Linked DNA regions of Homo sapiens: regions 1 and 2 are each linked to region 3. Evidence: fine-mapped expression QTL. A gene starts in region 3. Each other region holds a variant in brackets. All regions are shown on one strand. Distances are from middle to middle.

The links. PIP is the estimated chance that this variant, and not a neighbour inherited with it, causes the effect.
Region 1: its variant is the best candidate, but not a certain one, in a credible set for the expression of SLCO5A1 in prefrontal cortex (GTEx, PIP 0.67).
Region 2: its variant is the best candidate, but not a certain one, in a credible set for the expression of SLCO5A1 in testis (GTEx, PIP 0.82).

What each region holds. Positions count from the first base shown.
Region 1 is chr8:69,872,255-69,879,371 of GRCh38, reverse strand. No RefSeq gene overlaps it. Among named protein-coding and RNA genes, the nearest start is that of SLCO5A1, 41 kb to the right of the region's middle. The variant T/G (reference allele first, on the strand shown) is at 3,483.
Region 2 is chr8:69,708,835-69,715,951 of GRCh38, reverse strand. All of the region lies in intron 5 of SLCO5A1 (solute carrier organic anion transporter family member 5A1), which reads left to right. LOC105375889 (a long non-coding RNA gene) reads right to left here and starts at 4,416. Exons shown (of 3, transcript XR_929026.3): 1 at 4,332-4,416; 2 at 1,028-1,104. RefSeq lists an enhancer at 4,302-4,802. The variant G/T (reference allele first, on the strand shown) is at 4,401.
Region 3 is chr8:69,830,887-69,838,003 of GRCh38, reverse strand. It overlaps SLCO5A1 (solute carrier organic anion transporter family member 5A1), which reads left to right and starts at 3,026. Exons shown (of 10, transcript NM_030958.3): 1 at 3,026-3,150; 2 at 4,835-6,237. The coding sequence starts at 5,331. SLCO5A1-AS1 (SLCO5A1 antisense RNA 1) reads right to left here and starts at 3,892. Exons shown (of 4, transcript NR_186568.1): 1 at 3,811-3,892. RefSeq lists silencers at 2,761-2,870, 4,961-5,050 and enhancers at 3,191-3,270, 4,701-4,770.

The DNA.
Region 1 (7,117 bases), 41 kb before region 3:
GTGGCGTTATTTCTGAGGGCTCTGTTCTGTTCCATTGATCTATATCTCTGTTTTGGTACCAGTACCATGCTGTTTTGGTTACTGTAGCCTTGTAGTATAGTTTGAAGTCAGGTAGTGTGATGCCTCCAGGTTTGTTCTTTTGGCTTAGGATTGACTTGGCGATGCGGGCTCTTTTTTGGTTCCATATGAACTTTAAAGTAGTTTTTTCCAATTCTGTGAAGGAAGTCATTGGTAGCTTGATGGGGATGACATTGAATCTGTAAATTACCTTGGGCAGTATGGCCATTTTCAGGATATGGGTTCTTCCTACCCATGAGCATGGAATGTTCTTCCATTTGTTTGTATCCTCTTTTATTTCTTTGGACAGTGGTTTGTAGTTCTCCTTGAAGAGGTCCTTCACATCCCTTGTAAGTTGGATTCCTAGGTATTTTATTCTCTTTGAAGCAATTGTGAATGGGAGTTCACTCATGATTTGGCTCTCTGTTTGTGTGTTGTTGGTGTATAAGAATGCTTGTGATTTTTGCACATTGATTTTGTATCCTGAGACTTTGCTGAAGTTGCTTATCAGCTTAAGGAGATTTTGGGCTGAGACACTGAATAGACATTTCTCCATGGAAGACATACAAATGGCCAATAAGCGCATGAATGGGTAGATGATCAACAGTATTAATAATTAGGGAAATGCAAATCAAAACCACATTGAGATACTACTTAATCCCTACTGGGATGGCTAAAGTAAAAGACAGACATTAACAAGTACTTACAAGGATGTAGAAAAATTTGAATGCTTATACATTGTTGGTGGTAATGCAAAATGATATACCAACTTTGGAAAACAGTTTGGCAGTTCCTCCAAATGTTAAACATAGTTGCCATATGACCCAGCAATTCCACTTTTAGTTATATTCTCGAAGAAATGAAAATATATATCCACAAAGAAACCTTATACATGAATGTTCATAGCAGCATTATTTATAATAGCCAAAAAGTAGAAACAACCCAGATTTCCATCAATTAAGGAAGATTTATATATATATATATATACTCGGGAGGCTGAGGCAGGAGAATCACTTGAACACGGGATATGGAGGTTGCAGTGAGCCGGGATCACACCATTGCACTCCAGCCTGGGTAACAGATTGAAGCTCCATCTCAAAAAATATGTATATGTAGTATTCTCATTTCACAGGCCCACAGATGGAGAAGGATTTTTCCACAGGATGGTTCATATGCAGAGTCTCACTCATACCTGACTTAGATACCAAGATTTGAAACTTTTGAGCTGATGAGATTTTGGACTTAGTGTTGATGTTGCAATCATTGAGATTTTTTGAGGATTTTGGGATGGATGAATGTATTTTGCAAGTAGGTTAGATGTGAACTTTTGAAAGTCTGAGGATAGACTGTAGTGGATTGAATGAGCCCCCCTCAAAAGATATATTTATATCCTAATCCACCATACCCGTGTATGTTACCTTATTTGGAAAAGAGGTCTTTGCTGATGTACTTAAATTGACTATCTTGAGTTGAGATTATCCTGGATTATCCAAATAGGCCAGAAATTCAATGACAAGTGTCCTTATAAGAGTCACACAGAGGACAGAGAAGAGGAGAAGGCAATGTGACCACGGTGGCAGAGATTGGAGTGATTTGGCCACAAACCAAGGAATGCCTGGAGCCACCAGTAGCTGAAAAGCAAAAAGGAACAGATTGTCCATCTATTTGAGCTTTTGGAGGGAGTGCAGCCCTGCTGACACCTGATTTTAGACTTTATTTTTTTTTTTTTATTCAGGGCCTCCCTGTGTCACGCAGGCTGGAGTGCAATGGTGCAAACATGGCTTACTGAAACCTCAACCTCCAGAGTTCAAGCAGTCCTCTTGCCTCAGCCCTCCTGAGTAGCTGGGACCTTAGGCGTACACCACCACACCTAGCTAAATTTTTTTTTTGGTAGAAATAGAGGTTCACTGTGTTGCTGAGGCTGGCCTGAAACATCCGGACTCAAGGAATCTTCCTGCCTCATCCTCCCAAAGTGCTGGGATTACAGATATGAACCACCATGCTCAGCTCAGACTTTTGGTTTTGAAAACCGAGAGAAAATAAATTTCCATTGTTTTAAGCCACCCAATGTGTGGTGGTTTGTTACAGCAGCAACAGGAAACTAGGACAGATTTACTTTGCAAAGTCAAAGTAGCCAGTTACAAAAGTCTAAATATTGTTTGATGTTATTTATATAAAATGTCTAGAATAGGCAAATCTATAGAGACAGAAAGTAGGTAAGTGGGAGAAAGAATGGGAGAGACTGCTGATTGGTATGAGATTTTCTTTTGGGGTGATAAAAAGTGTTCTGAAATTAGATAGTGGTGATTGTTGCGTGATTCTGTGAATATAACAAAAATCAGTAAGTTTTGTACTTTATTATTTATTTTTTTAGAGATGGGATCTCTCTGTGTTGCCCAGGCTTGTCTTGAACTCCTGGCCTCAAGCGATCCTCTTGCCTCAACCTCCTGAAGTAGCTGGCTTACAGGTGCAATCTACCACACCCGGCTCTGAATTTTGTACATTTTTTTTGTCTTTTGACAAAACCAAATGGGTTGTGGAATGAATTTTGTGCTTTAAAAGATTAATTTTATGGTGTGTGAATCATATTTTAACAAAGCTATATAAAACATTTTGGCCAAGTGTGGTGGCTCACACCTGTAATCTCAGCACTTTGGGATGCCAAGGTGGGCTTGCTTGAGGCCAGGAGTTCAAGACCAGCCTGGGCAACATAGTGAGACTCCAGCTCTATAAAAAACATAAAAACTTAGCTGGGCATGGTGGGGCGCACCTGTGGTCCCAGCTACTTGGGAGGCTGAGGTGGGAGAGGATCACTTGAGCCTGGGAGGTTGAGGCTGCAGTGAGCTGTGGTTGTGTCATTGTACTCCAGCCTGAGTGACAGAGTAAAACCCTATCTCAAAAAAGAAATCAATGTGGTTTTCTTAACTTATTGATTTTATATTTATATCTTTTTAAGTTGGAAATTGAAAAAATAAGATTAACATATTTATTTGCTTGATCCTAGTAGACACATAAAAGGGCTTCAAAATTACAATGTCAATATTATCACATCATTACAGCAATAAAAATATGAGGCGAATTTTGAGAATTTTTTAGGTAGTTCTTTATTTTTAGACTACATCCCACTAAAGAAGGAACTGTCCAAAAGGTGTCTAAAACTCACTTGAAATAAATTTTTGCTTTGTGTCAGTATGTTGCTCACTGGATATAGAATTAAGTTTTCTTTTTCCCAATTTTAGGGTTTCTTTCCCTTTTTGATGTAATTTTACCTATTTCATGAACATTTAAAACATTTAAGTAGGTAAAAACTCAAAATTATATAAAAAGGCATATTCAGAAAAGTCTTACTACCATCTCTATCCTTCTCCTTATTCCCCACTTTCTAACCCCCATACAACTAGCTCTATTAGTATTCATTTCTGATT[T/G]ATCTTTCTAGAGTTTCTGGAAAAATAAGCAAAACTAAAAACACACATATATAGTGTGTATATATAATACATATATTGTGTATATATAGTCTTATTTTACCTATTTTCTTCCTTCCTTCCTTCTTTCCTTCCTTCCTTCCTTCCTTCCTCCCTCTCTTTTTCTTTTTTTCTTTCTTCCTATATTTAAAAAAATTTCATAGAGTTCCTGTGTCACTCAGGCTGGTCTTGAACTCCTGGGCTTGAGTGATCCTCCTGACTCAGCCTCCCAAAGAGCTAAGTTTATAGGTATGAGCCACTGTGCCCAGTCTACCTCCTTTCTTATATAAAATATAGCATTTTATGTATACTGTTGATATGATTTGGCTGTGTCTCCATGCAAATCTCATCTTGAATTATAGTTCCCATAATCCCCATGTGGGATCTGGTGGGAGGTAATTGAATCATGGAGGGAGGTTCCCCCATCCTGTTTTCATGCTGGTGAGTTGGTTCTCATGAAATCTGATGGTTTTTATAAGGGGCTTCCCGCTTTGCTGGGCACTCATTCTTTTCCTTCCTGCCATCATATGAACAAGGACGCATTTGCTTCTCCTTCTGCCATGATTGTAAGTTTCCTGAGGCCTCCCCAGCCATGCTAAACTTTTAACCCTTTTTCCTTTATAAATTACCCAGTCTTGGGTATATCTTTATTAGCAGTGTGAGAACAGACTGATGCAACTGTAGTGCATTTTTTTTTCACTTAATATGTACTGGAAACTACCCCTTATCAATACATAGAAATCTTACTTATTTTTTCCATGACTGCCTATATTTCATTGTGGGGGTAGTTTATTCAGTCATTTTTTAATTGGTGAAACATTTGGGTTGTTTCCAGTCTTTTGCTGTCACAAACAGCTCTGCAATTACTATCCCAGTGAATATTTTGTTTAGTATTTATGTAGATTCAGGATAGATTCCTAGAAGTGAGATTGCTGGGTCTAACGGTAAATGCTTCTTTAATTTATTCCTGTCAGCAATGTATGAGAGAGCTGGTTTTTCCCCAGGCTTATCAGCCAAATGAATTGTCAACCTTTGGATTTTTGCCAATCTGACATGTGAGAAATTATATCTCACTGCATTTTGAATTTGCATTTCTCTTATGAATTGAGGTTAAGCATCTTTTCCACATGTTAACAAGCAAATGACCTGTCTTTTTCTGAGATTTCATTATATTTTGTTTTTTAGAGATGACGTCTCACTGTATTACCTGGTCTTGAACTCCTGGCTTCAAGCGATCCTCCCGCCTCAGACTCCTGAGTAGCTGGGACTACAGGCTGGTTATGTTTTTAAAACCTTTTTCTATAGGTATCTTTGTCTTTTTTAACCCTGAAATTCTAAGAGCTTTTGTATGTTAGTTCTTTGTGATGTAAGTTGTAAATATTTTCTTATAATCATTTATCTCTTAACTTTTCCTTGTCGCTTTTGAAATGGCAAAAATAACATAACAAAAATTAAAGAAAAAGTCATATTATTCCATGGCCTCAACATAACTATTTTTACTTTGCGAATGCCCTCCTAGATATGCCTAGATTTATGTTTAGGTCTAATCAATTCTAATCACTGGTCACATCTTTTGGATTCTGCTTTTATTACTTAAGATTAGGGGATAACTCGCTTGGATGGGTCACATTCTAACTGATTAATTTGTTGACACGTGGCAATTACTTAAAATCAGCGTGCTCAGGTGTCTGGAGTCCTGATTCGCTTCCACACTTCTCAAGGTCACTGGAAATTGCAGGAGGGAATCAAATCCTCCCCAGCACTTGGAAGGCTGAGTCAGTTCTGTGGCCAAAAACAACTGGATGCCAGACTGCCATTTGGAGTTTTAGGACTAGTTAATTCCAAGGCTTTTATGTCTGTCCTCAGTCACCACCCCCAAGTGCCAGCGGCTGGAAGACTCAGTCCGTCCTCCCCTGTTCCCTCATTTTAATAGGCTGCTGCTTCCGACATGTACACAGTGATCTCTCTTTCTCCCCGTCTCCTCTCTTCCTCCTCCCCTTTCTGAGTCTTGGCCTTTTATAAAGAACATCACATTTATAGTTGTTAGTGTGGAGATAATTTACTAAGTGTTTAAATTGCGTCTAATCTAATTTTTCTCCTGGTAGCGGAGGAGGTTAGCGTTTCTATCTGCATGTACCCCGACCCCCTACAACCTTGCTTTCAATATTTTTCTTTGGCAAGTGCAAGGTGACCAGATTCAGAATTCTGAATAAATAAACAGCAAAATTTTATGATTTCTTTTTTTTAAAGCTTAAAAGCTTTTTTTGGGCCAGGCACGGTGGCTCACGCCTGTAATCCCAGCACTTTGGGAGGCTGAGGCGGGCGGATCACGAGGTCAGGAGATCGAGACCATCCTGGCTAACACGGTGAAACCCCGTCTCTACTAAAAATACAAAAAATTAGCCGGGCATGGTGGCGGGCAACTGTAGTCCCAGATACTCAGGAGGCTGAGGCAGGAGAATGGCATGAACCCGGGAGGCGGAACTTGCAGGCGGAGCTTGCAGTGAGCCGAGATCGCGCCACTGCACTCCAGCCTGGGCGACAATATGAGACTCCGTCTCAAAAACAAACAAACAAACAAACAAACAAAAAACCTCTTTTTGATGTACCATAAACACCTTGGGCATCTAAATTATCTGTAGAAAATACATCGAGCGGCCGGGCGCGGTGTCTCACGCCTGTAATCCTAGCACTTTGGGAGGCCGAGGGGGGCGAATCACGAAGTCAGGAGATCGAGACCATCCTGGCTAACATGGTGAAACCCCGTCTCTACTAAAAATACAAAAAAATTAGCCGGGCGAGGTGGAAGGCGCCTGTAGTCCCAGCTACTTGGGAGGCTGAGGCAGGAAAATGGCGTGAGCTCGGAGGCGGAGCTTGCAGTGAGCCGAGATCGCGCCATTGCACACTCCAGCCTGGGCGACAGAGCGAGACTCCGTCTCAAAAAAAAAAAAAAAAAAAAAAGAAAATACATTGATCTTGTTTTTAAGTCTTATTTTTAGAACGACAGTTACAGAAGGATTATAACCATATTTTAATTTGAGTGCATTTCTCATTGCCCCGTTTTTTTCTTCATATTAAATAGGAGAATATTTGTATATATACACATGTGTATGTATGTATGTATGTACGTATGTATACATATATTTTGGGGAGGTAGTTTTTTAAAGATGACCGTATAGGATACACCTCTTCTCCCCGTGCCTCTATTTCTTCTTCAGTCCCACTATTTCGGAAGAACTTTGAAAGCTATGGGACTATTAACAGTGGGGATATCTCTCTACAGTATGCTATGGTTCACAAATGCTTGAGTACATTATTTTGTTGGACTCCAGACAGTTATTTCTCTGATAGCTTAATTAACAGAATTTGTCAAACTTTAGAAAACTCTGAAGAGCTTGTCTAAAGTGTTTGCAAAGACTTTAAATTTTAACCTTCACTCAAAATCTTCATGAATTGTCTCAGTAGGTAGTAAAGATAATGAACCGAAAAACAGCCTGTGTCTGGCTTTGCATCTGGCACCATTTATCTGTACTTCTACATGTCCAGGAACTGCTTTACATATGGACCTAAGCATTTGCAAAATCTTTTCACAATTTTGC
Region 2 (7,117 bases), 120 kb after region 3:
TGTTTCTTTTTAGGGCGATGAAAATGTTCTAAAATTTTAGTGATGATTGCATGTTTCTGTGAATATACTAAAAACATTAAACTGTACACTTTAAGTAGGCAAATTGTGTAGTATGTGAATTATAGCTCAGAGAAGCTGTCAATTAAAAAAAAGAAACACAATATGTCTAATTAGTGATGTGACTATATTTATGAAATGTCTGCTCTGGTCTTCCCTATTCACTCGGCAGAATTAATATGGTTTCTCAAGAGCAAAATTTCCACCTGGCCTTAGTGGGGCAAGGGCACTCTAATAGGTATAGTTCAGATGTGCAGACTTTTGTCTCAATTTTTTTTCCATATACAGAGTTTGAAAAATCTGCTTACTTCTCCTAGGGGAAGGGTAGCTTTGTCAGGGTTTTGCAGTTCTGCTATTAGTGGGCGTCATGACGATGAACTGTCTCGATGGAAAAGCTCCGAGGACTGCTGGATTTGGACAACAATGGACAGAGGAGAAGTTGAAAGTTGCTGACAGAAAATGGATCTTGCCCAGAGGACCTCCAAAGAGGGTTTTGTACTTGGCATGGGCCACATCTGTGGGCTTTACTTGTATGAATGGAAACCCAGTACAGAAAATTGATACCAACGTCGTTTGAGGCTTATTTTGATAGCTGAAAAAGTTAATAAGGTGCTCTTATTCTCCTGTGAAATTTCCTCTGCAAAGGCTCCCTACCCACCTTTCCAGTAGTTTGCTTAGCGGTTTTCACCTTCAGTTTCCCAGCACTAGGGAAAACGGAAGTAAATACTGTGATTTTTGCATTTCATCGTTTCAAGTGGTTTTTGCCCTCTGTGGGTTTATCGCGTGGATGCAGAAAATTCTTTTAGGTTTGTAAGCCATCAAAGATGAAATATTAATTTGATTTGATTTTTGAATCCCTTTCATAAAACAGCTCAGCATTCTCTTTTATGCATTATTTCAGCCAGAGCTTTACAGAAACCTGAAATGAAAAGCATGGTTGTTTTCACTGTTGAATGTTCCTTTTTATTACCTTTCCTTCAGTGATCCCCAGACCTTGAATCCTGAGATTGGGGTTCTCATATTTCTCTCCTACTGCACAGTGTCTCCCTGTGTTGGTAAAGAGTTGAAGAAAGTGTTATTATGAGTGAATGAGATCCGTCTGGCCTAAGAGGAGTTAAATATGGGCTTTATATAAATATCTCCCTGTTGAAGTCATTGAGGCTAAGGTTTTTAGAAGTGTGTAATTCCTTTGAAAGCCTTTACTAAAAATTTCAGCAAGGCTACGCTAGAAATTCAAGGACATTCTCTTTTGGTTAGCTGTAAGTGGTCCCATGGGAGCCACACTATGATTGTCACGGGGAACCTGACAGAGGAAACTGAGGCTGATGAAGTCTACTTCTGTCTCCTCTAACTGAAGTTATAGAGGGGCAAAACTTGAGACAGCTGGGGTGCAGCAGCTTTGAGCCAGGCGAGCTATCCCCCCAGCTTATCTGCCTCAAGAGAACTCCTAAAAGAACTTACTGTAAGTTCTTCTACTCTGCCTAAAGGCTTCTTCAGGTACTGGCAGCTTTGACTGCAACAAATGCTCAACGCATGCAGGCTGCCTTTCCTAATCCTAAGTCCAAATAGGGATTTGCTACCCCTCCTTTAAGTTTTGGCTTGAAGCTATGCTGTGAAATATTATGGCTTTAGAGAAAAAGTTTGTTCTCTGCCTTAAACAGCCACTGAGTTCAAAGAAAAAGGTACCTTAAATTAATTCTAATGATACATCTTGTTCATTGTTTATGAAGGGATTGCTGAAATTTTTTACAACAGTAAGATTGAGATATATGAAAGAGAAAGAGATATACTGTGCTTTTAAACTTTGTGGAGTCATTTATAGTTTGTGAGAATGTATACTTATCGCGCTGTCTCTTCTCAGATCAGTTAAAATTTGCTAGCTTCAAGGTTTGGGTTTTTTAAATAATCTTTTTAGTAGTTTGCTTCTGACAGTAGTTGATACTTATTTCCTACAAGAAAATGTTTGCAAGAGAAAATGGAAGCTCAAAAGGGTAAAATTATTTATTCTGAGCAAGAGGAAAAGATGTCTTTTGAATCATCGGGTTAGAAGCTTAGGCTTTAGAAAAGTGAAATAACCTTGAGTCAGTTTCCTTGCTCTAGAACTCTTTAGGTGTTTCTTCCTCTGTGATGTGGAGAGAATGCTGTATTCCTTCCAATCTGTCACACTTTTGCTGGCAAGATGCACCATGATTTTGAGTTATTATGAAAGAAAAATGCTTCTAATTAGATTATGACATAAGGCTTGCATACTATTGATTGTAAGACACACTTTGGGTTCAGAGCATAAAAATCTGTAACATTTGAGAATTAAATGAGATACTGTATTTAGATCAGTTATCACAGTACCTGGCATGTAATCAACATCTGTGTGTGTATGCAGTTGTTTGTGGGTGTGTGGGTGTGCACTTGCACACACACAAAAAAGGGAGGAGGGAGGGAGAGAGAGAGAGAATGAATGAGTGAATAAATGGTACTTTCTTCTTTTCTAGGTACTCATTCTGCTTTCTTGTCCGTCCCATGTGCCCAGCCAGGCAACAGCAGAATCCACATGTCATGATGGCTTACAATGATATTCCTTAATTATTGATAGTCTCATGTTTGCAAGCCATTTATTTTCAACAGAACTTAAGAAAACTTTGGACATGGAAAACACAGAAAGGGCAGTGAAACTAGAGCAAAGAAATGACAATGTCTAAGATTCTAAGAGCCTGTCTTTATTAATTTAAGTCACCATGGTTGGATATTCTGTACCACTGTAATTTCACAACAGATAAGAGGTTTCAGAGACTGATATCGTACTCTGCATTTCCTTTGGTGGCTTGGCAGTTTAAGCTTTTGCTAATAATGTTCAATTCAGAATCTTGGTAAAAGTGAGATTTTTCAGGCACCATCTAGATATTTAGTGCTTATCAGTTTTAAACTGATTTTAGCAATTTATTTTAACCTCAAATTAGATCTTAGATTATCTATTTGTAAAATGGGATACAACCTAGTTCCAGGAATAATTGAAAATGGAAATTAATGAGCAAATCACTTAAAGATTTTATATAATAAATTCAAAGTTATATAAGATTTTATATAATAAGTTCAAAATGAATGTTTGTTCTTTCATCCAAACACACACTAGGCGTTGGTCAGTGCTAAATAAATAGGAGGATACTGAAAATATAGACAAGAACCTTAAAGAAAGATAACAGAAAGATAGAGAATAAACACAATAGGAGTGACAGGTGTGATGAGAGGGGCTAGCGCTGGGTACCATAAAAGCACATTGTTGTTGTCTTAACAATAGCAACAATAGCACAATTGAAGCTCCCTGAACCTATAATACATTCTTGATAATGAATGGGTTGCCTAATTTTGTTCTCTCCTTTGGTTCAGGTTTTCCTGTGCTCCAAATCATGCTTTAAGCTCCCGTATATTTTCTGTGTCTATTTACAATACAAATTGGCAAAAATTGGAGCGAAAGAGGAAAAATTCAGTCATTAGCTTTTATATTTGGTAATTAAATAAATATTAATTTTTCATAAAGACCCTTTGGCTCCATGCAGCCACAAAATTGGGGTCCAGAATAAAAACGTCAAAATCGAATGTTGTGGCATAATAGTGCTTGACAGAGAAAGAAAGAAAGTAGGACAATTAATGTCTATTTGCTTGGATAAATGACTAGATAAAAGATTTCCAGCTGGAAAGCAGCAGGATATTCCCAGACCTTTTATGAGCAAAGCAGAATCTTCTGCATTGTCAGCACTTAATGTTGCAGTGAGTTCTTTAGATTCAGATAAAAGACATGCTGCTAAATATCTAAGAGTTTTATGTGTTAAGAACACATAGTAAGTAAATATCAAAGGTTTGTATATTTAAAGAACACATAGAGGTTTATGTTGGGCCACTAATAGATTGCTTAAATTCAATTCTATAGATTAAATAGCATATAGGAATTTGCCTAATTATAATTCCAATATATATGTGCAAATTTAAACTCATAATATTAGGCAGATAATGAAATTCATGCTTGTTAAAATGATGATGATGATGGCCAGCATTTATTGAGTGTATGCTGTTGGTCAGACACTGTTCGAAGCCTTTCACAGGTCTTAATTCATTTAATCCTAACAATCCTATGAAGAATATACTATTATAATCCACATTTCAGAGAGGAGAAAATCCGAGGCCTGGAAATGTTCAGTAATTTGCCTGAAGACATGCAGCTTGTAAGTGGCTGAGCTGAGATTTGAACTTAGGGGATCTGGCTACATAGCCCAGACTCTTACCTGGATCTGCCTCTTGAACATATGGAATTGCGTTGGGTTCTCTCCTCTACGGCTGGCACCTCGGGCCTC[G/T]GGTGCCTGGGCTTGGTGCATCTTCCCACGCTCTGCCCCCCTTGCCCTCCCCACCGAACATATGGAAGTGTCCTTGGGTATCCATCCATTGATGGCCTTTTCCCCACCTGCTTTTCTCCTGCGCTCCCCAGGTCTTGGCCATTAGAGGGCGCTGGAGCAGGAACTCGGGGGTCCCTCCGAGGCTGGGAACGCGGCAGGGTCGGGGCAGAGGCGCAGAGAGGTGAGGTGCGCAGTGGTGAGAGGCGCAACGGAGCGGCGAGCTGACTCTTTGGGACCTGGGGACAGAGGGAAGGGAAAGAGGGCACCAGCCAGGGACGTGAATTTGAGCTCAGAGAGGGCTAGCGGCAGGACCGTAACTTCTGCCGGGAGAACCCATCTTTTCTATTTATCTTTTCCACCCCCAATAGGGAGTGGGCAGGCGGGGAGGCCTGGATGGCGCGTGGTGGTGGGTGGAGAAACTGACTCGCAGCCGCTCCATAAGCTCACCCGGAACTACTAGAGCTGCTGTACCTGGAGCCAGGGGCTTTGAGTGGGGGGGACAGTATGAAGGCTCTGAACTGTCCGACCCCATCCCTGCTGCTCGTCCCAAGACGCGTATAATTCCCCAAAGCAAACTTCGGATCTTTCTCTGATCGGAGATCCAAGCAATGTCCATATTCGCGTAAATGAGTGGTCAGACCTTTCTGTTTTGATAGTGCAGCGAGATACAGATGATGGGGGCGCCGAAGAACATTTTCATGGGTCTTCACTCTGTTTGGTGTGCCCTCATATTTACTGATGACACGTGTTCTATTTTTGAGAGCCTAATGCTAATTAGGATGCATAATCAAATAAATTATGCTGCTGTTTAATTATGACTCAGCTACCAGCACGGAGATTTGTTATCCTGAGGCTGTAGTACAGTATCCGCGGCTCCATAATTGCTTAGTTGAAATTGAAATTTTATGAATAAAACGTTTTCATTCTAAAGGTAAATTAATCACATTGATAGCATGTATACGTTTTCTTGGTGAGGAGGGTACTTTATTCTCCAGCTCATCTCACCCTAGAGCTCTGGGTGAGATTCCAGGGACCTATTGGGTGTAAGAGGTCGCTGTGATAATTAGGGCCCAGCTTGGGGCTGGGAACAGAAAATGTCAGTTTCTATCCAAACTTCCCTTTTTGTGCTGTGCACTATAGAGCAGGCCACTTCCCTGAGCCTTCAGTCTCCTCATCTGTAAAAGGGCCATTGCCGGTCGGGCGCGGTGGCTCACTCCTGTAATCCCAGCACTTTGGAAGGACGAGGTGGGTGGATCACCTGAGGTCAGGAGTTCGAGAACAGCCTGGGCAATATGGTGAAACGCCATCTCTACTAAAAATACAAAAATTAGCCGGTCGTGGTTGCCAGCGCCTGCAATCCTAGCTGCTTGAGAGGCTGAGGTAGGGGAATCACTTGAACCTGGGAGGCGGAGGTTTCTGTGAGCCGAGCTCACACCACTGCACTCTAGCCTGGGCGACAAGAGTGAAACTCTGTCTAAAAAAAAAAAAAAAAAGCTGTTGCCGATTTCACAGGACTCTGGTGAGGATTACAGGATGAACACTAGCTACCAGGCAAAACTGACTTTAAGTTAATCTCAGTCTTCCTCTGCTTCTCTTTGTGGGTTGTTGAACATGCCGGAGCATGCAACCGTGCAAGTGAATGCAGCTGCAAGCTTCTGGTGTCCAATATTGTCTGGACCCATATTACCCTCTATTACATATTCTTAGTAGTGCCGACTTCACTTTCCCATCACGGTTTTTCCAACCCTTGGCCACAATTAAAATTCTCAATATCTCTTCCTTCTAAGAGGTGGTTTTGTTTTCAATTATACAGAAAAGAAACCAACAAAAATCAAAGGTATAAAAAATGAATCTACAGCATGTTATGAATTCTCGGAGGAAAAACGTCTGCAATGAAATATGCCAGAATGCAATCAGTGTATATTTGTTCCTTCCTACTTTTCTGTTTTCCTTCCTACTTTTCTGTGTTTTTCAACTGTTTTGTTACAATATGTATTACATTATGTTTACAGAATAATGGAAAAATAAAACAGAAAAACTAACATTGTAAAGCTACTACTCACCCACGGATTTATCCTCTGTTCTAGCCCAGAGAAAGGAGTTTCTCTCCCCCTATTCAGGGCTAAGTTGATTATCTGTGCTATTAATTCTATGTTATCCTGACTTCTCAAGGATCTTGCATTGTCATTAGCTGAAATTTCCCCTCCACATTCAACCATTCATTCCCTTTTTAGTTTATTTTCCTCAGTATATAAATGTGTTTAAGTCCTCTCTGCATCCTAGCAAACAGATAAAACCCTCCAAACCTCAACCCTGCCTTGTTCCCAGTCTAATTCTAGACCCATATCCCTTCTTCCTTTTATATGCAAAGTTCTAGAAAGAGCTGACTGGATTCTCAAACTCTAGGGACTCATGACTGACTACTCAACCCATCGCAGTCTGGTTTCTACCTGCATGACACTCTTAAAATTGCTCTTGTCAGAGGTCCAGTGACACATTGTCTCACTTCAGTCTTTCTTACTGGACTTCTCTAAGGCACTTGATACTGTTGTCTATTTTCTCCTTGAAACTCTCTCCTTGGTTTCTTGGTTTTCTTCTTTTTTTTTGAGATGGAGTCTCACTCTGTCACCCAGGCTGGAGTGCAGTGATGCAGTCTCAGCTCACTGCAACCTCTGCCT
Region 3 (7,117 bases):
CTGGGAGACCTCTGAAGTGAACCTTCTTTAAGAAGGAAGGGAAGGGCTGTGGGAAAAGGCTCCCTTCAGCTTTCTTCTGCCCATTCTCCAGGACGGCCAGATTTTAAACCTGTAGACTGCCCTGGAAATTGCAAAGGCTACATACTTGTTATATGAAGATCAGGAAAGAAATCATTTATTTATTTATTTATTTATTTATTTTTAAAAAGAAGTCATTTATGTATAAAGTCGATGGACTTAGAAGAAGCAAACGTAAGTCTGAAAGTTTGAAGAGGGTTTACAGTCATATGCTTCCTCTCCCAAAATGCCAAACAAGGCAGGCATTCTGGTTAAAGTAACTGTAATTATTGAGTGAAATAAGGATAGTAAACACTACCATAGGGGTAGTAGAACCCCGTGATATGAGTCCATTTCTTTGTATTAATCAGACAATTACGGCTAATGAGGTGTGCTCTTCTTTTTCAAAGTCATATTTAACTGGGAAAGATAAAGCAAAAGAAATGCTTCTTGCTGAATGTTTTCTTCTTGTTTCCTATGTGAGTAAAATTGGACCTTTTAAAATTTTGTCTTTTTTAAAGTCATATTTAACTGGGAAAGATAAAGCAAAAGAAATGCTTCTTGCTGAATGTTTTCTTCTTCTTTTGTGAGTAAAATTGGACCTTTTAAAATTTTGTCTTTTTTAAAGTCATATTTAACTGGGAAAGATAAAGCAAAAGAAATGCTTCTTGCTGAATGTTTTCTTCTTCTTATGTGAGTAAAATTGGACCTTTTAAAATTTTGCTGTAAATCATGATCTATTAGTGGCAATAAAAAAATCCATAGGTTCTTAGAGTTGCATCTACTTTACGGTAACTGAGCATGAATAAAGACAGAGTGTTTCAGGGACACGATTGCTTGATTTTCAAGTAGGGAAGTCCTGTGATGTCCCCTGATGTATCACATTGAATTCACTGATGTCTGGAGCTGAGACTGAAATGAGAGAATGGGACACAGAGCTTGGAAGGAGGTAATAGGAGGTAGGTTGATTCTGTGTGGATTTAGAATCAGCTCAGAAGAGTATTTGGGTTCAGGAAGTGCCACGTATCTTTGCTCACTTTATCAGCAGTAGAGGACTAAAATCTGGGCAGGGTGGCAGCGGGAGTCCTATTGCCTGTTTGTAGAAAAGTGACTGTGCCTGATGGCGATCTCAAGAGGAGGAGACAATGGCAGGGAATGAAGAAATGCCTCGGTTGATAGGTCAGTCTTGCAGCTGCCAGAAGATTGATGCTCTCTCAGCATGGACTTCAAATACACACTGATTGTTCTTTACTGTCAACTGGCCTTAATTGTTCTCTAAGGATCGCTGTAGATACGACGGTTGTTGGACTAAAGGGAGATAATCAAAAGAATCAAGGTGCATTGACGAGTCAGGATGTTATTCAATGGCAGGAGAGAGGGTAGAGAGTCAGGGTTAAGAGGTTAAGTAAGAACATAGTCTTTTGGAGCACATTGGTTCATATTGTCTACAGAGCAGCTGTGTGCCTATATAAAGTTACTTAACCTCTCTACACTTATCACATCTGTAAAATGGAGACAATGCTTTCATTGGGCAAGGCCAAGGGCCAGTGGAGGGGCTTCGACCTGGCAGCAATGGCCAGCATGGTCACTGGTACTTGTGAGCAACCTCCTTTCCTCCATTAGAGCACTATCCTGCTCTGTCAATGGTCACAAGTGCCCTCAGATACTCTTTTTTTTTTTTTTTTTCAGTTATCATCCTGTTTGTCTTCCCTGCAGCCTGTACACATCTGACCCTTCCCTTCTTACAGTCGTCTGCTCTTTTGGCTTTTCTGATGCGTCCCACACCTCTCTGACCCTTGCTTCCAGTCTCCTTCCTTTGGCTGTACGCTGTCCTCCTAGATTCTTCACAATTTGGATGATCTTCCCTATTCATTCCATCCTTTCTCATGCCACCTTTGGGCTGATGACTACTGATCAATATTCCTAGTCCAAACCTCCTGTGTGTCCAGTGGCTTATGGGACACGTACACTGGGATGTCCCCCAAACATTTCAAACTCAACACATGTAGATGAGAACAATCTTTCTCCTAAAGCATGTTTCTCCACCTGTGCTTTTATTGGCTGTCAGGCACGTAGTCACCCAACTTGGTGCTAGAAACTTGGGAGTCATCCTACCTCGGCTGGTTTTCTTCTCTTGCAGATTGCATCAGCTGCCCAGTTCCCTCCTCTCCATGCCCCCTGCCAATGCCTCATCACATTTTGCTTTCAGACTGCCTCCCAACTCACTTCTGTGCCCGCAGTGTGGCCTCACATCTGTCTACCTGTCACTGCCAGAGCCAGCTCTCTGGTGAGGAAGTCAGAACGTCATTGCCCCCACATTATTGACAGTACACAACTTAGGAAACCCGTAGTGCCCCTTTCTACTCAGCCACTCTTGCAGTCTGGTCCTCTGCCCCATCCCTGCAATCTTCTAGGAAGCTTATCTACCTATTGACTGGCAGCACCATGCCCCCGTGCCTCTGTTCTTCCTGCTGCGTGGAAATGAAGGCTAATGGATATTGGCTACTCCAGTAGCAGGCTGCATAGATGTACCACGTTGTTTTAAGCCATTTACATGAGTATTTCCCCCACAAGCCAGAGGTTTCCTCCGACCAAGTATCTTGTCTTGTTTATCTTTGGTCCCAGAATCTACTATGGTGAATGAGACATGGTGTGTGCCCAAGGCACGGAATAAACGATCAGAAATGATTTATTTATTCAGAGTGGGCTGTCAGCTTCAGCCGCTGACTTTTCTAGAGACCGGCTCCCTCGGGGCTTCAGCGCTCTTGGGCCCCCGCAGCCACGCAGGTGAAGGGCAGCGGGGTGGCTGGCTGTGGGAGGGCTGGGCTGGGTGGCTGCCCTCGCGCCTGCGCCCTCGGCTGCTCCTCTCCGGGCGCGTCTCTGTGCGCGTGTGTCTGTTTGGAGCGGAGGAGAGGCTTGGGTGACAGGCGAGGGGTGGGGGGAAGAGTTCAGCCTGAGTCACAGTCTCATTCACTGATTTCTCTTCGGCTGGACGGAGGCTGCCTCCTCACGCGGCTCCCAACTATTCCCGTAGCTCAGTGCCCCCCTCCCGCCGCTCTACTCAGCCAGGCAGACAGACTGACAGACTCGCTAGTGAGTAGCGGCGGCTTGAGCGCCCGGGCAGCGCGGCGGGCTGTCGCCGGCGGTCTTGTCTTCCCACGGGCTCTGTGTGTGTGTGTGTGTGTGTGTGTGTGTGTGTGTGTGTGTGTGTAGGATGTGCGTGTATGTGATGTGCGCGCAGGGGGTGTCCCTGGGATTCCACGCCTGCTCCAAGAGCTCCCTGCCGGGATCCGCGTGTCCATCCGAGTCTGCGATGCTGTGAGGGCGCTCGCCTAAGCAGGGGGTTCGGACGCCCCCCGCGAGCGGCGAGAGTTTGCTGGGATTCCCCGGCTCCTCACGCAGCGGCTGGTGGGGTTCCCCGGGAAGGCGCCTGGGTAAGGCAGCGGCGGGGAAGCCCGGGATTGTGAGTGGCTGGCAGGCCGGGAATCTGGGAGCGGGTTTGGCCCAGCACAGCCGAGGGAGATGCCGGAGCGGCCACCCTTGGCCGCCCAGCCTCTCTGCCTTTCTCCCTTGCCCTTCCTCCTTTCTTTTCTCAGCAGCATCACAAAGGCGCGCTGCAAAATGAAACCCAGTGTAGTGAAGCTCGGCTGTCTCCCACCTGGTGCATATTCCGCCCCCCGTCCTTGCCCCAGGCTGGAGGAGTGGAGTGGGGGTCCCCAAGATTAGGGGCGGGGTCTTACCACGGGGGCACACCTGTTTTCGATTCTTGCTGAATTCAAGCTGGGTGCGGGATCGCGAGAGAGGTTCCAGTACGCCGGTGTGTGTGTGTGTGTGTGTGTGTGTGTGTGTGTGTGTGTGTGGCCGCGCACGCGCACACGCTCCCCAGGCCCACGCTAGCGGGGTGCGCTCAGTCAATAGCACACCTCCCCGCCGGCCCGCGTGCGCCCAGCCGGCTCCGTGGGCTCCTCGCGCGCTCTCTGACAGCGTGCCGGGATCTCTTTGTTTGGTTGTGGCTTCCCTAGCTCTCGGCAAAGCAGACGGATTTTCGGTTTCGTTTGATACCGCGCTCTGGGACTTAGTGCGGGCCACAGCCTCGAATGCCCCTGGTATTTGTAATTGAAGAGTTCTTTCGGTCAGGGGGTTATTTTTGGTGTTGGGAATAAAGAGGCAAGCATGTTGACCTTTTTGCTGCTGCCTTCGGCTTTGAATGTGTGTCTCTGGTGGAGCAGACAGATTCAAATCTAGTCGCGCACACGTGCCAACGCACACCAGTGTGCACACACATTTCTACACACGTAGTTTACCCCCACCTTCTTTTTTCCTTTTAGAAAAATTGGGACAGGGAATACATTGTGTGTCTGTGAAAAAGTTTCCTTTGTTCTTTTGGGCATTTTCTATTTTGAGTAATGGAGTAGGAGTACGGAAAGGCTGCAGTTAGTTCACTCGATTAAAAGACACTGCCTCTGAGTCAGAGCTGCCAGGTTGATAATTATTAACATATAAAAGCAAACGCAATGTTTAAGGCAGAAGGGGCGGGACGGGGGCAGGTCCGCGGCAGACAATGAGGGAGAGTCTCCGCCGACCGCCTGCTGCTTATTGTTCCGGGACTGGAGACTGCAGCCGGCTGCTGCCTAGTCCTCCGGGGCTCCGCTCCTGACTAGCTCCTCCGTCCCTCTAGGGACGGTTCGGGGTCACCTAACCCTGGTCCCCGGGGCGCTGGGACGCTAGCCCCAAGCCGCAGCCGCTCTTCGCTGACCGCCCTCTTTCTGCTTTGCAGGTCGGCAGCTTCACTCCCGAGGGTGCCGCGAGCCCAGGCGGCGAACACCCGGTACCCCTGGCGCAGCGAGGTGGGATGCTGTACGGACAGCAGCGCTAAGTGCCCCCCCACCCCCGGCGCAGGGTGCACTCGCTCCTGGCCGCGGGCCCAGCGGCGGCGGCGGCGGCGGCGGCGGAGGGGATGAGCCCGGGACGCGCGAGGCGCCTGCCTCAAGCTACCGCCCGGAGAGGGACGCCGAGTAGGGCTCATCGCAGTACCGCGCGGACCCCTGCCCCCTGTGGCACGCGGCTGCGGAGCCTTGAAGCCGTGTCTGTGATCAGGATGCACTGGGCGCCTCGCAGCTGGTGAGGATGCCCTGCTGCGCGGCCCTGCGCCCCCAGCCCCAGTCCCAGGTGGGCAAGACTGACTGGGCCCGGCTTCGGCCCCTCGTGCCGGTGGATGAAACGTGCCGGAGTGCTTGGGTGCCATCAGCTATCAAATCTGAATTCTAAGCGCCATGGACGAAGGCACTGGACTGCAGCCCGGGGCGGGAGAGCAGCTGGAGGCGCCGGCCACTGCAGAAGCTGTCCAAGAGAGGTGCGAGCCGGAGACCCTCAGGTCTAAGAGTTTACCGGTCCTCAGCAGCGCCTCCTGCCGGCCAAGCCTCAGTCCCACTAGTGGAGACGCCAACCCGGCCTTTGGCTGTGTGGATTCTTCGGGCCACCAGGAGTTGAAGCAAGGCCCGAACCCGTTGGCCCCCAGTCCCTCTGCCCCGTCCACTTCGGCGGGGCTCGGGGACTGTAACCACAGGGTGGACCTCAGCAAAACCTTCTCGGTGTCCTCCGCCTTGGCCATGCTCCAGGAGAGAAGGTGCCTCTACGTGGTCCTCACGGATTCCCGTTGCTTCCTGGTGTGCATGTGCTTTCTGACCTTCATCCAGGCGTTAATGGTCTCTGGGTACCTGAGCAGCGTAATTACCACCATTGAAAGGCGCTACAGTCTGAAGAGTTCCGAGTCGGGGCTGCTGGTCAGCTGCTTTGACATCGGGAACCTGGTGGTGGTGGTGTTCGTCAGCTACTTCGGCGGCCGGGGTCGGCGGCCCCTGTGGCTGGCCGTGGGTGGACTCCTCATCGCCTTCGGGGCAGCCCTCTTCGCCTTACCTCACTTCATCTCGCCCCCCTACCAGATCCAAGAGTTGAACGCCTCGGCCCCCAACGACGGCCTGTGTCAGGGTGGCAACTCCACCGCCACTTTGGAGCCTCCGGCCTGTCCGAAGGACTCGGGAGGAAATAATCACTGGGTCTACGTGGCTTTATTCATTTGCGCGCAGATTCTCATTGGAATGGGCTCCACACCTATTTATACCCTGGGACCAACCTACTTAGATGACAATGTCAAGAAAGAAAACTCCTCCTTGTACCTAGGTAAGACTTTCCTGTTCTCTCAGATATGTTTCACTCACACTGAAACTTACTTTCCTTACAAAAATCAAAAGGAAACATGTTCTTTCACATTTTCATGTATATTATAGATTAAAGTTCACTTTATTTTACGTTTTAGCCTTGCTGTAGTGTGTTTTCAGTTTGGGAGAGAATCAATTAGTTGAGAGTTCTTGAAACTAATTTTCAGACTCATACTTCATGTTTGTCTTTTCCCAAGTAACATAAACTTTAAACTGTGGGGTGATGCTTCTCTCTGTTGCTACCTACCTATGGAAAAGCTCCAATTTGTCAAGTTTATATTCTAATACACTTGTTGAGGAAGGAATAGCAGTACCTCATGTGTAAAGTTTTGATGATTTTCTGCTTCTATCTGCTGCTGCTTCTGATTTCTGTCCAGAGCAGCAGGGATGGTGGCGTGGCCAGACTACATACATCATGCTTTATTGCCTTCATACCTGTGTTTCTTTTCTTTTTTTTTTTTTTCTTTTTAAGATGGAGTCTTGCTCTGTCACCCAGGCTGGAGTGCAATGGCATGATCTCAGCTCACTGCAACCTCCGCCTCCTGGGTTCAAGTGATTCTTCTGCCTCAGCCCCCGAGTAGCTGGGATCACAGGTACCCATCATGCCTGGCTAATTTTTGTAGAGATGGGGTTTCACCATGTTTGTCAGGCTGGTCTTGAACTCTTGACCTCAGGTGATCCACCCTCCTTGGTCTCCCAAAGTGCTGGGATTCATACCTGTTTTTCTTATACGTCACCTGCACCACTATCTAAAAACAACAACAAAAATTTGAATAATGTCAAATGACTGGCTTACCTTTATGAAGAAGCAACACCACAGGTTATAAGGTTTATCCAAAGCT